2 separate regions of the Homo sapiens genome follow, and region 2 is linked to region 1. Evidence: fine-mapped expression QTL. A gene starts in region 1. The other region holds a variant in brackets. All regions are shown on one strand. Distances are from middle to middle.

The links. PIP is the estimated chance that this variant, and not a neighbour inherited with it, causes the effect. A credible set is the group of variants that fine-mapping cannot tell apart.
Region 2: its variant is the best candidate, but not a certain one, in a credible set for the expression of BCL7A in tibial nerve (GTEx, PIP 0.68).

Annotation. Positions count from the first base shown.
Region 1 is chr12:122,018,824-122,024,189 of GRCh38, reverse strand. It overlaps BCL7A (BAF chromatin remodeling complex subunit BCL7A), which reads right to left and starts at 2,306. Exons shown (of 6, transcript NM_001024808.3): 1 at 2,007-2,306. The coding sequence starts at 2,098. RefSeq lists silencers at 18-107, 1,588-1,747, 1,898-2,217, 2,348-2,427 and an enhancer at 938-1,753.
Region 2 is chr12:121,960,717-121,966,082 of GRCh38, reverse strand. CFAP251 (cilia and flagella associated protein 251) reads right to left here. Exons shown (of 22, transcript NM_144668.6): 14 at 5,325-5,366; 15 at 3,921-4,105. Among named protein-coding and RNA genes, the nearest start is that of CFAP251, 45 kb to the right of the region's middle. The variant T/C (reference allele first, on the strand shown) is at 2,488.

The DNA.
Region 1 (5,366 bases):
TGTTTCCCCAAACCCAGGGAGGCGCAGAGGTACAGCCCCTCAAGCTCCAACTACAGGCCTGGTCCCCGCGGGGTCAGCGGGCTGGAAGGCCTCCAGGCCGGCCGCCCCGGGGCCCGCGGGGTGGGAAGCCCCATCTCTCCATCTGCCCTCCCTGCAGAGCAGCTGGCCGCTCTGCGGGAGCAGCTGTCAGGGTGCAGGAGCCTCTGTCCAGCCGGGAACCTGGAGTAGGAGGCCCCACCACGCCTCCTCGAGCAGAGAAAGGCGGCTTGCCGGCTGTTTCCCAACCTCCAGGCCGGCGACAGAAGGGACCCAGGCACAGACACCAGTTCTTTCTTTGCACAGGGGCTGAGGCAAGGAGGGGAGCAACTCCGGGCTTCCCGCGGGGAATCCCACAGTAGAGGGGGCTGCGGGTTGTTTTCCAGCGTGTGTGTGTTGGCCTGCAGCTGTTTCTGCCATTTTTAAATGGCTCCAGTCGGGCACCGGGCACCCTGTGTACCAGGGGAGCTCCCGAGACACCGACGACTTGGATCTCAACTTTGGAAAGCCTCCCCTTCTCACGGTTCTGAAAATTCTTTGTCCCACTGGAGCCAAACCCAGCCCACGGCCGGGCATCCGGCCATCGCAGCCAGCCCTTTCCATAGGAGGCCGGGGAGCACGTGGACTTTATTGATTTTCCTCTTGCCTTTTTTGTTGGGTTTGACTCAGAAAGGACAGCTAACTTGTGACACCGCCACACCGGAGGCTCGCCCCCAGTGGCTTTTAGAGACCGAGGCGCTACTCGAGAAACGACACCCCCAAACGTAAACATCCCCTGCCACAGGGCCTGCCCAGCTTCCAGGCTCGAAATAAAGGGTCGAGACGAGCCCGCGGGCGCTGACACTCAGAGCCAGCGTTGCGGCGGCTCCTCTCCCTCCGGGACCCCAGTGAAGGCGTGGGAAAAAAATAATAAAGTTGAAATCAGGCAGCGGGGAGTTTTCAACAACTCTGACCCAACCTGGCGATCTGCTTGCGCCTCGGGCCTGGCCCAGGGGCCGATTCCGAGCAGACCCCGACGAGGCCGCGGAAAGGTTCGATCCCCTTAATGTCGACCGGGCCACGCCGGGCGGACGCTAATGTGATCCCGAAAACCACGCGCGGCCGCCACCAAGTCCCCCTCTCCCCGGTGCAGAGAACAAAAACAACAGCTCCCTCCGCAAAACAAACACGAGCTCCCGGTGTGGAGAGGCAGCCGCGGCCCAGGACGAACGGCTTCTGGCCAAAAACATCGGCTGGCCCGAGCCCCCCGCCCGGGGCGCCGCGCAGAGCGGGGTGGGACGTGGGCGCCCCGCGCCCCTGGCCGCTGGCTCCCAGCGCTCGCCCCCATCTTTCCTGGTCGCCGAGAGCCCTCGCTCCAGGCAGCCCAAAGCGCTAAATTTAAACGGCTCGCGCTCTGCAAACTCCGCAGACTCGAGGGCGCCGGGCCCGGGAGGCGGGAGCGGGCGGCCGGGCGGGCCGGGGCTGGCGGAGGGCGGCGGGGCGCGGGCCGGGGTGCGCGGGGAGGAGACGGCGGCGGCGGCCCGCTCGGAGCCTGCACAATGGAGCTCGCGCTCTCCCCGCCGCCGCCGGCATCGCGGCCCCGGCGCGCGGGAAGCCGCTTTCATGTGACTTGCACAAAACGAAATGGCTTCTGGGGCCGGCCCCGAGCCCCCCTCCCGGGAGCCGAGCGCCGCGGCGGGGGCCGCCCCGCCGCTCCAACCGCCTGGCCCCGGCGCCCGCCGCCTCCGGGCCGCCGCGCCAGGTGGGCTACAGGCGCGAGCGCACCTGGGCAGCGGCCGCGGCCCCAGCCTGGCGCAGGTGACCCGGCTCGCGCGCCGCCCGCCCGTCCGCCCGCCCTCGCCAAGTCCCGGGGCCCGCGGCGGGGCTGGGCCGGGGCAGGCGGCCGGGGCGCTGCGCCCCGCGGCTCTCTGGAGCCGCGCTCGGGCTCGGGGCGGCCGGGGAGGCGGCTGGCGGCGGGCGCCTCCGCTTACCATTTGCGCACTTTCTCGATCGCCGCCATGACCCTCTTGATATCATCTTTGGCCCGGCTCCTCGTCTCGGCTCGAACCGACCTGCCCGACATGGTTCCGGCGGGGAGACGGAGGCTGGGGAGCGCGCCCGCCGGGTCCTGCTCGCGCTCCGCGGCGGCCACACTCGCGCCCGCCCGCCGCTCACTCACTCGCGCACAGACACTCGCACTCTCACACGCACACACTCACACACACACACACACACACACACACATACACACACACACAAAGCCCGGGGCCGCCGCGCGCCTGGCCCAGTGCGCAAGCGCCGGGCGGCAGCTGCACAGAGCAGGGGGAGCCGCGCCGCCGCCGCCGCCGGCAGTGCGGCCTCCGGGCGCCGCGGCCACCGGGCAGCGCCCCCGGGCCTCCTGCGCCCCCAGAGGGGACGCCCCGGACGCCCTCCTGGGGAGGTGGCGAAGGGCGCACGGCGACCCCCGGCTCTGGGCGCGCGGTGGGGGCGGGCGTGCGGACACGCGCGCTGACCCTTCCTCGGAGGCTGCAGGTGCCGAGGGGTCCATGGGAGACAGCCGGTCTGCGGGGCGCGGGGGGGTCGCGTTCCCCGGGAGCCAGCCCAGCTGCCCCTGCCCAGCCCCCAGAGCGCGGCGGCGGGTGCAGTCGTGCAAGTTTCTTGCGGGTCTCTTGACTTCTCCGAGTTGAAGGCACCGGTTCGGGACGCGAGGTGCTCTTGGAAAGAGTTGGGCATCGCGCATCTCTGCTGGCCCGCGGCCCTGTTCAAATGCGAGCTAGGACGTCGCCTGCCCCAGGCTTTGTCCTTTTGGAAAACTAGGGTTGTAGGAAGGTGCCTGGTGCCAGGCAGACCACCAGAGACTCTCGACCTTGAGTACTAAAGAGTTTTCTGCTCAGCAAAAGCTCAATGATGATCAGCATCGTAACAGGGACTCTTCCTCCCGCCCCCAGAAGTTCTCTTGTCATAAACAAGGCGAGGGGGTCTTCGCTGAGCTTCACCAGAGGACCACGATTTCACCTTAAGCCATTCCTGACTTCAGTACCAGACTGAGACCAGGCGCTGCTACTGCCCAAATGACCCCTGGTCCCATCTACAAGGAGCACTTTTGAGGCCTCAGAACAGAGCCCCGGGGAGAAATCTGCGATGATCAGGGTAACCTGGGTGCCGCATCTTGCTGTTCAGCTGCAGCGGAACCGGCCGGACCAGAGCTAATGCGCGCCCAGAATGAAGAGGGAGACCGAGAGTGGCCCAAATGTCAGCGCCCCGGGCCTGGAGATGACAGCCCGACAGCAGCCATTTCACAGCTGGGGAAACTGAGTCCTGGGAAAGTTTAAGGTTGCAGCCTTAAGTTGTTACTCATTCTAGACGTTTCCCCTGAGGGTTTGGTCTTTGGGGAACACGCTACTGTGGAAATGGAGAGACCGCAGGCCTTTTCCTAGGCATTTGTTTTTACTATTCTGAAACGCAGTCTCCTGACGTGAAAAATGAAGAAAAGAACAAATACTGGCCGGGCGCGGTGGCTCATGCCTGTAATACCAGCACTTTGGGAGGCCGAGGCGGGTGGATCACTTGAGGTTAAGAGTTCGATACCAGCCTGGCCAACATGGTGGGTGAAACCCCGTCTCTACTAAAAATACAAAAATTAGCCGGGCGCGGTGGTGGGCTCCTGTAATCGCAGCTACTCGGGAGTCTGAGGCAGGAGACTCGCTTGAACCTGGGAGACGGAGGTTGCAGTGAGCAGAGATCCAGCCACTGCACTCCAGCCTGGGAGACAGAGTGAGACCCTGTCTCAGAAAAAAAAAAAAGGCCGGGCGCGGTGGTTCATGCCTGTAATCCCAGCACTTTGGAGGCCGAAGTGGGCAGATCACGAGGTCAGGAGTTCGAGACCAGCCTGGCCAACATGGAGAAACCCTGTCTCTACTAAAAATACAAAAATTAGCTGGGCGTGGTGGTGCAGGCCTGTAATCTGAGCTACGCGGGAGGCTGAGGCAGGAAAATGCTTGAACCTGGGAGGCAGAGGTGCAATGATCATGCCATTGCACTCCAGCCTGGGCAACAGAGCAAAACTGAATCTCAAAAAAACAAAACAAAACAAAATAAAACAAAACAAAACAAAAAAAGAAAGAGAGAAAGAAAAAGAAAAAAAAGAGAAAGAGAAAGAAGGACTTCAGAGAATCGTTCCGAGAATTTTCTGGGAAAATATGCAACAGCAGGTCATAAAACAGATCTCACAGAGATATGTGAGATCAATAGGTATGTGCTTTGGGCCACATGAAACTTTAAAAAAATGTATCTTAAAATTTAAAATAGGAAAATATTATGTCAGAATTCAAATAGTGACTGAGGAACAGATAAATGTGTCTATCCACACAATGGAATATTATTCAGCCATAAAAGGGAATGAATACATGCTACAACATGGGTGAACCTTGAAACACGCTAAGTGAAAGAAGCCAGTCACAAAAGGATAAATATGCGTAAGTCCATTTGCGGGAGATATCTACAACTAGGCGAATCCATAAAGACAGATATCAGATTGGTGGTTGCCAGAGGCAAGGGGGAGGGAGAGCAGGAGTGACTGCTAACGGATGTGGGGTTTCCTTTCGGAGTGATAGGAAAGTTCTGGAATGAGATAGTGGTGATGGTTGCAGAACAATGTGAATGTACTTAATGACGCTGAATTGTACACTTTTAAATGGTTACAATGGTCAATTTTATGTGTATTTGATCATAATAAAAAGAAATCTAGGCTGGGCGCGGTGGCTCACATCTGTGATTCCAGCACTTTGGGAGGCCGAGGTGGGTGGACTGCTAGAGGCCAGGAGTTTGAGACCAGCCTGGGCAACATGGTGAAACCCCATCTCTACAAAAAATTCAAAAAATAGCCAGGTGTGGTTGTGCGCATCTGCAGCCCCAGCTGCTCAGGAGGCTGAGGTGGGGAAGATGGCTTGAGCCCAGAACGTAGAGGCTGCAGTGAGCCAAGATCATGCCACTGCATGAAGCAAAGAAAGAGAGAGAGAGAGAGAGAGAGAGAAAAGAAAGAACGAAAGAAAGAAAGAAGAAAAGAGAGAGGGATGAGGAGAAGGAGAGAGGGAGGGAAGGAAGAAGGAAGAAAAAGAGGGAAGGAGGGAGGGAGGAAGGAAGGAAGGAAAAAAAAAAATACCCAGCTTCTCTAGAACCAGCAGATCTGCAAACTGGACCCTCAGTGCCACATGGCACCCATCGGCTAGAGCAGAGAGCTCTGTCTGTATCTTTCAGACAGAGTTATCTGGGTCACCAGTGCACTCATAGCCACTTTACTCATTTGTGTTACCTGTCTGGCCCCTGAAAGTATTTGTGATTTTGATCCCCAA
Region 2 (5,366 bases), 58 kb after region 1:
AACGCAGTGGCTCATTCCCATAATCCCAGCACTTTGGGAGGCTAAGGTGGGAGGATTGCTTGGGGTTAGGAGTTCGAGTCCAGCCTGGGCAACATAGTAGTTTCCTGTCTCTATGAAAAATTAGCCTGGCTTGGTGGCCTGAGGCTAAGGTGGGAGCATTGTTTGAGCCTGGGAGGTCGAGGCTGCAGTGAGCTGAGATCATGCCACTGCACTCCAGCCTGGGCAACAGAGTGAGACCCTGCCTCAAAAAAAAAAAAAAAAAGAAGAAGAAGAAGGAGAAAATCTATATCTCCACATTGCTGCACCCTATCCCAAGATAATCATGAGTAATAATTTGGTGTATATGACTCAAGAATTTCTTTTGTAATTATAATTTTATATAAAAATAGAATTATGCTATTCATGCTTCATTGGTAATTTGCTTTATCTCATTTTACATCTTTGAGATATTTCCACGTCATTACACAGAGAGCTGTCTTACTCTTCCTTTTTTTTTCTTTTCTAAAAGCAGCATCGTGTTCCAGTGTACTGACAAACCATTGTTTAACTCATCCCCTATTAATGGGCATTTGGATTGTTTCCATTTTTAAAAATATTTTCAAACAAGACATCCGTTTACTTATGTCTTGGCATACTGTGTGAGTACTTCTGTGGGCTACATTCCTAGAAGTCAGAAGATATGATAAAATTTAATAGAGGGTGACAAATTGCTTTCCCAAAAGGTTACACTGATTCACACCCGCCCCCAGAAGCGGATGAGAGTGCCCGTTTTCCTAGCCTCTTGCCAATGCTAAGCACTATCAATCATTTTTATCTTTGCTAATCTGATTGGTGAAAAAATGATATCTTGTTTTCATTTGCATCTTTGACATACTAGTGAGCATCTGCTCATAGGTTTATTGGCCTTTTCCTGTGAACTGCCTTTTCATGTTCTTTCAAATCTTTTTTAAATGCATTTTTACATTCTTTTGGATTTATCACAAAAAGACAATTCCTTCCCAATTAAGCCATGGTTATGAGGCTTTCTTATTCCTACAGCTTACAAGATGCTTTATGCAAGGGCTTTTATTCTGGAATGATGGAAATGCTCTGAAGCTACAGTGGGGGTTGCACAGCACCATGAGTACTAAATGCCATGGAACTGTTCACTTTCTTTATTTTATTTTATTTTATTTTTTTTAAGACAGAGTCTAGCTCTGTCGCCCAGGCTGGAGTAAAGTGGCTAGTAAAATCCCGCCTCACTGCAACTTCCACCTCCCGGGTTCATGAGATTTCCTGCTTCAGTCTCCCACGTAGCTGGGATTACAGGTGCATGCCACCACGCCCGGCTAATTTTTGTATTTTTAGTAGAGACAGGGTTTCACCATGTTGGCCAGGCTGGTCTCGAACTCCTGACCTCAGGTGATCCACCTGCCTCGGCCCCTCCCAAATGCTGGGGCGTGAGCCACCACGCCCGGCTGAACTGTTCACTTTCAAATGGTTCATTTTATGTTACGTGAGTATCACCTTGATAAAAATTTTTAAGATGCTTTATGCTAATTTCAGATTGATCATCAACAGGCAGAAGCTCCCAACTTTGTGTCTAAAAGTCCCTCCTGCCTCTTTCCTCCAGTGAATGACTGTTAGCAGGAACTTCAGGCCCGAGGTCTGCCAGCCCTCATTCTCCAGCTCTGCCAATTCAGTGTCTTAGGACTGCGCATATCTGAGAGATATTCTTTGTCCAAAAAGTATGTTTTCATTAAAAACTATGCACAATGATTCTGAAATCTTTCTAAAGCTCCTCTTTACACATGCTTTCCAGTGTTTTAATCGTTTAAGGAAACTGTCCTGGATTTTTCTCTCTACCATAAAACATGGCATTTCTCAGTCATTTTTTCTTGTGCCTTCTGGGAAAGAACTGTTTACAACAACAACAACAACAACAACAACAACAACAAATCCCGGGTGGTCCTGGCCTTTTGAGGACCTGTCTTATCTGAGATACATTTCAAAACCATGATAGTCTTCAAGCCTGAGCCAGCTGCTGCCAGTTCCCTGACTTCCTTCTCCTGGTGGTGGTGGCAGTGGCAGTGGTGGTGGTCGTGGTGGATCACTGAAACATTCTCCCTTCGAACTTCTCCTGCCTCCATCCTTCTTTCCAGCCATACCCAAGACACAGCCAAACCAAAGGCAGAAGCTCCCCTCCAGGGCTGACCAGGTAAGATCCCAAAGCCAGGGCTGTGTCGAGGCCCCACAGCGCTGAGTAGAGGATGGGGTCAGGGCTAGGGTCAAGGGTCAAGTCCTGCCCTGTTTGACCTTGGACAAGTCACACAGCCTCCTGAAGCTCGGTGGGAGAATAGTTAGCAGGGCTGTGGATGAGGGAATGGGATGACAGTGCAGGCCCTGCTGTACTCGAGGCACAATCGTCAGTGTTTCTTGTGAGGGCTCACAGGGGCCAAAGCACAGGGGCCCACGTGCATGTGCAGGATGGCATCAGGAGGGAGGAGA[T/C]GCCACTCTAGGATGCTGGGCTGCAGATGCCCTGCTCCCTGGCTGTGGACTCCCTGCTCCCCAGCAGCGGACGCCCTGCTCCCCGGCTGGTGTCCTCCCCGTCTCGTGCCTTCAACCATCCTGTGTTCCTGACTCCAGCCCAGCCTCTCCCGGGACCTCCACAATCCAGAGTCTGATTCGTGGGTTCCCACCTGAATGCCAAGCAGGCATCTCAAGCTTGCCTTGTCCAGTCTGACCCCTGGTTTATCTCAAAGCTATCTTTCCCTTGTCCTCCTCATCTCTTTAAAGGTCCAGTCCATTCTTCTGACTTCGAGAGGTGTCTTCTCTCACACCTCCTGTTCCCTCCATTAGCAAACGCTGTTCGCTTTGCCGGCAGGATATATCCAGAATCTGACCCCTCTTTTCTGCCCTCAGGGCCAAGCCGCCATCAGCTCTCACACCAGTTTCCCGAATCTTGCTTCTACCTTTGCGCCCCAGAGTCTGCTCTCTGTACAGAAGCCAGACATCATTCTAAAGCATCAATCAGAACATGTCACTCCCCTGCTCAAAACCCTCCACTAGCTCTCGCCTTACCCGGGAAGGAACCAGAGTCTCCAGGGTGCCGTGTGCCTGGCACCAGCCCGTACCTCTGACCTGCTCTCCCATGCCCCCTCCTTGCCCATTCCACTCTGGCCTCACCAGCCTTCGCGGCATTTCCCAAACCCCAGACGCCTCCCACCTTCACTCATTGGCCCTTGCTGATCCACTGTCTTTCCTCCAACCGCACAGCAGCCCCTCGCTTCCCCCTCACTTTCTTCAAGTCTCTGTCTGGATGCTCAGATGTCCCCTGCTCTCCAAGGCCTTCCCTGCCTCCCCACCTTTTTATCCTGCCTTTTCCTTTTCCTTTTTTTTTTTTTCTTCTTTGCACAGACCTGATTACCACATACCTACTACCTTGCTACTTGTTCACGCCATTGCATCACCTGCCCCCGCCAACATGTAAACTCCACAGTGATGGAAACTGTTCTGTTTTCATCATCTTCAGCACCTAAAACGGTACCTGGCTCACGCAGGGTGTAAACAAAGGAGGGCTAGCAATTAAAGTTAAAACTCCTTTGAGACCCAAGAGTAAGAAAAAATCAAACAATTGTTAGTAGCCAGGTAAAACTATGTTTTTCTTAATGAGAGGAGAATAGGAGATAGCATTAGCAACTTTCCCAGGGCCCCAGGGTCTGTGTCCTTCCTGGATTCTGCACATCTCACCTCCACACAGGGCCACATGACCTTGGTGAGAATTACTTACGTTATCTGTGCCTCAGTCTCCTCCTCTGCAAAGCAAAGAGGATGATAATAGTAGCCAAGCTGCCTGCAGGTCCCTATGTGGAGACCTGAAACAGGTTGGGGGCAGAGAACTTGATCCACGCCCCCTGCAATGGGAAGCTCCGGGTGCTTACCTGCACATTTTGGTAGTAGCATTAAAAAGCTTCACTTTGTAGCCACTGTTGCAAATAAGCAGGAAGAGTTCCCTGGTGAGTGGTGGGTACCAGACCATGCAGGTGGGATAGCAGCCCTGGTCGGTGTGGTGAATGTCCAGGACTTCCAGGTGGTCTTTGTAGCTCCTGAGAAGATCATACTCTATCTGCAGAGGAGCCCAGATGGACACACATGAGGACCAAGCCAAATTAAAGGCTCAGCTAAGGAACCCCAAGCTCTTGGGTGACAGCCTTTATAATTATCAGCCAACAGTGCTGTTCTGGGGGAGACGGTATCAGGTCTCCTAAGAGAAGACTTGCCTAGACCTGACACTGACTAAGTCATCAGTACTGAGAATTCACTACCTGGAAGACAATGAGCTGAGTGCTCTAAAAACAGCTGTCATGTCATCCTCAGAACTTCCCTGCAAAGGGGTACTGTTCTGCCCATTTTACAGATGAGAAAACAGATGTTCAAGGATGTTCAGAGTGGCTTGTCCAAGGTCACATAGCTAAAAAGTGGCAGAGTAAAAATTCAAAAATTCAAATTTAGATCCAGCTGATTCCCACACCTGACGTCTTACAGTTCTGTTATACTGTGTCACTTATTATCTTAGGAACTAATTCATATCTAAATCTCAGCCCAACACTTGGCAGTCACAAATCAGTAGCCACTGAACTGGGCCCATACAGGTATGCTTCCGTGGGCAGGGCAGAATGGATGGATGGATGGGTGGATGGACGGATGGATGGATGGATGGACAGATGGATGAATGGATGGAGAAACTGAATAAAGGAAGGAAGGGGAGAGAAAGAAGGGAGGGGCGGGGGAGGGAGGGAAGAAGAAAGGGAAGGAAGGAAGGGAGGGAGGGAGAGAGGGGGAGAAGAAAGGAGGGAGGGAGGGAGGAAGGAAAAACAGACAGATACAATGACTGGTTGAATCCATTTCACCTGACTCTGTAATATTGCGTTTGCCCATCCCTACCTTTTCCTCTTATCTCACAACCTCTCCTAGTTTTCACATTTAGGTAGCAGCCTGGCCCCAACTGATGGACATGAAGACAGTGTTAGTGAGTGTCAGCCCTCCCCGTGCACACTGGGAGGCAAGGGCGGCTGCTTTCCAAGCTATGGGGAACTCCCCGCTCCTTGCCTTCTAACTTGTTGCTGCCCGGGAAGCCTCCTCGTTCAGCACAGGAGTCCCCAGGTGGTGTCCCAGCCATGTTAAGGCAAAATGCCAACCTGGAGAGGTTTGTGATCCTTCACTGTGCATTCATTTTCTCCAACAAACACACGTACTGTGGGCCTGGCTCTATGCAAGATGCCAGGGATGTCACAAGAGTGAGACACAGTCTTGGCGACCAGGTCAACGAAAACTAAACAGCTCACCAAGAGCCTGTCTGTCCCAAGGCTCAGCAGTCTAGGCTCATT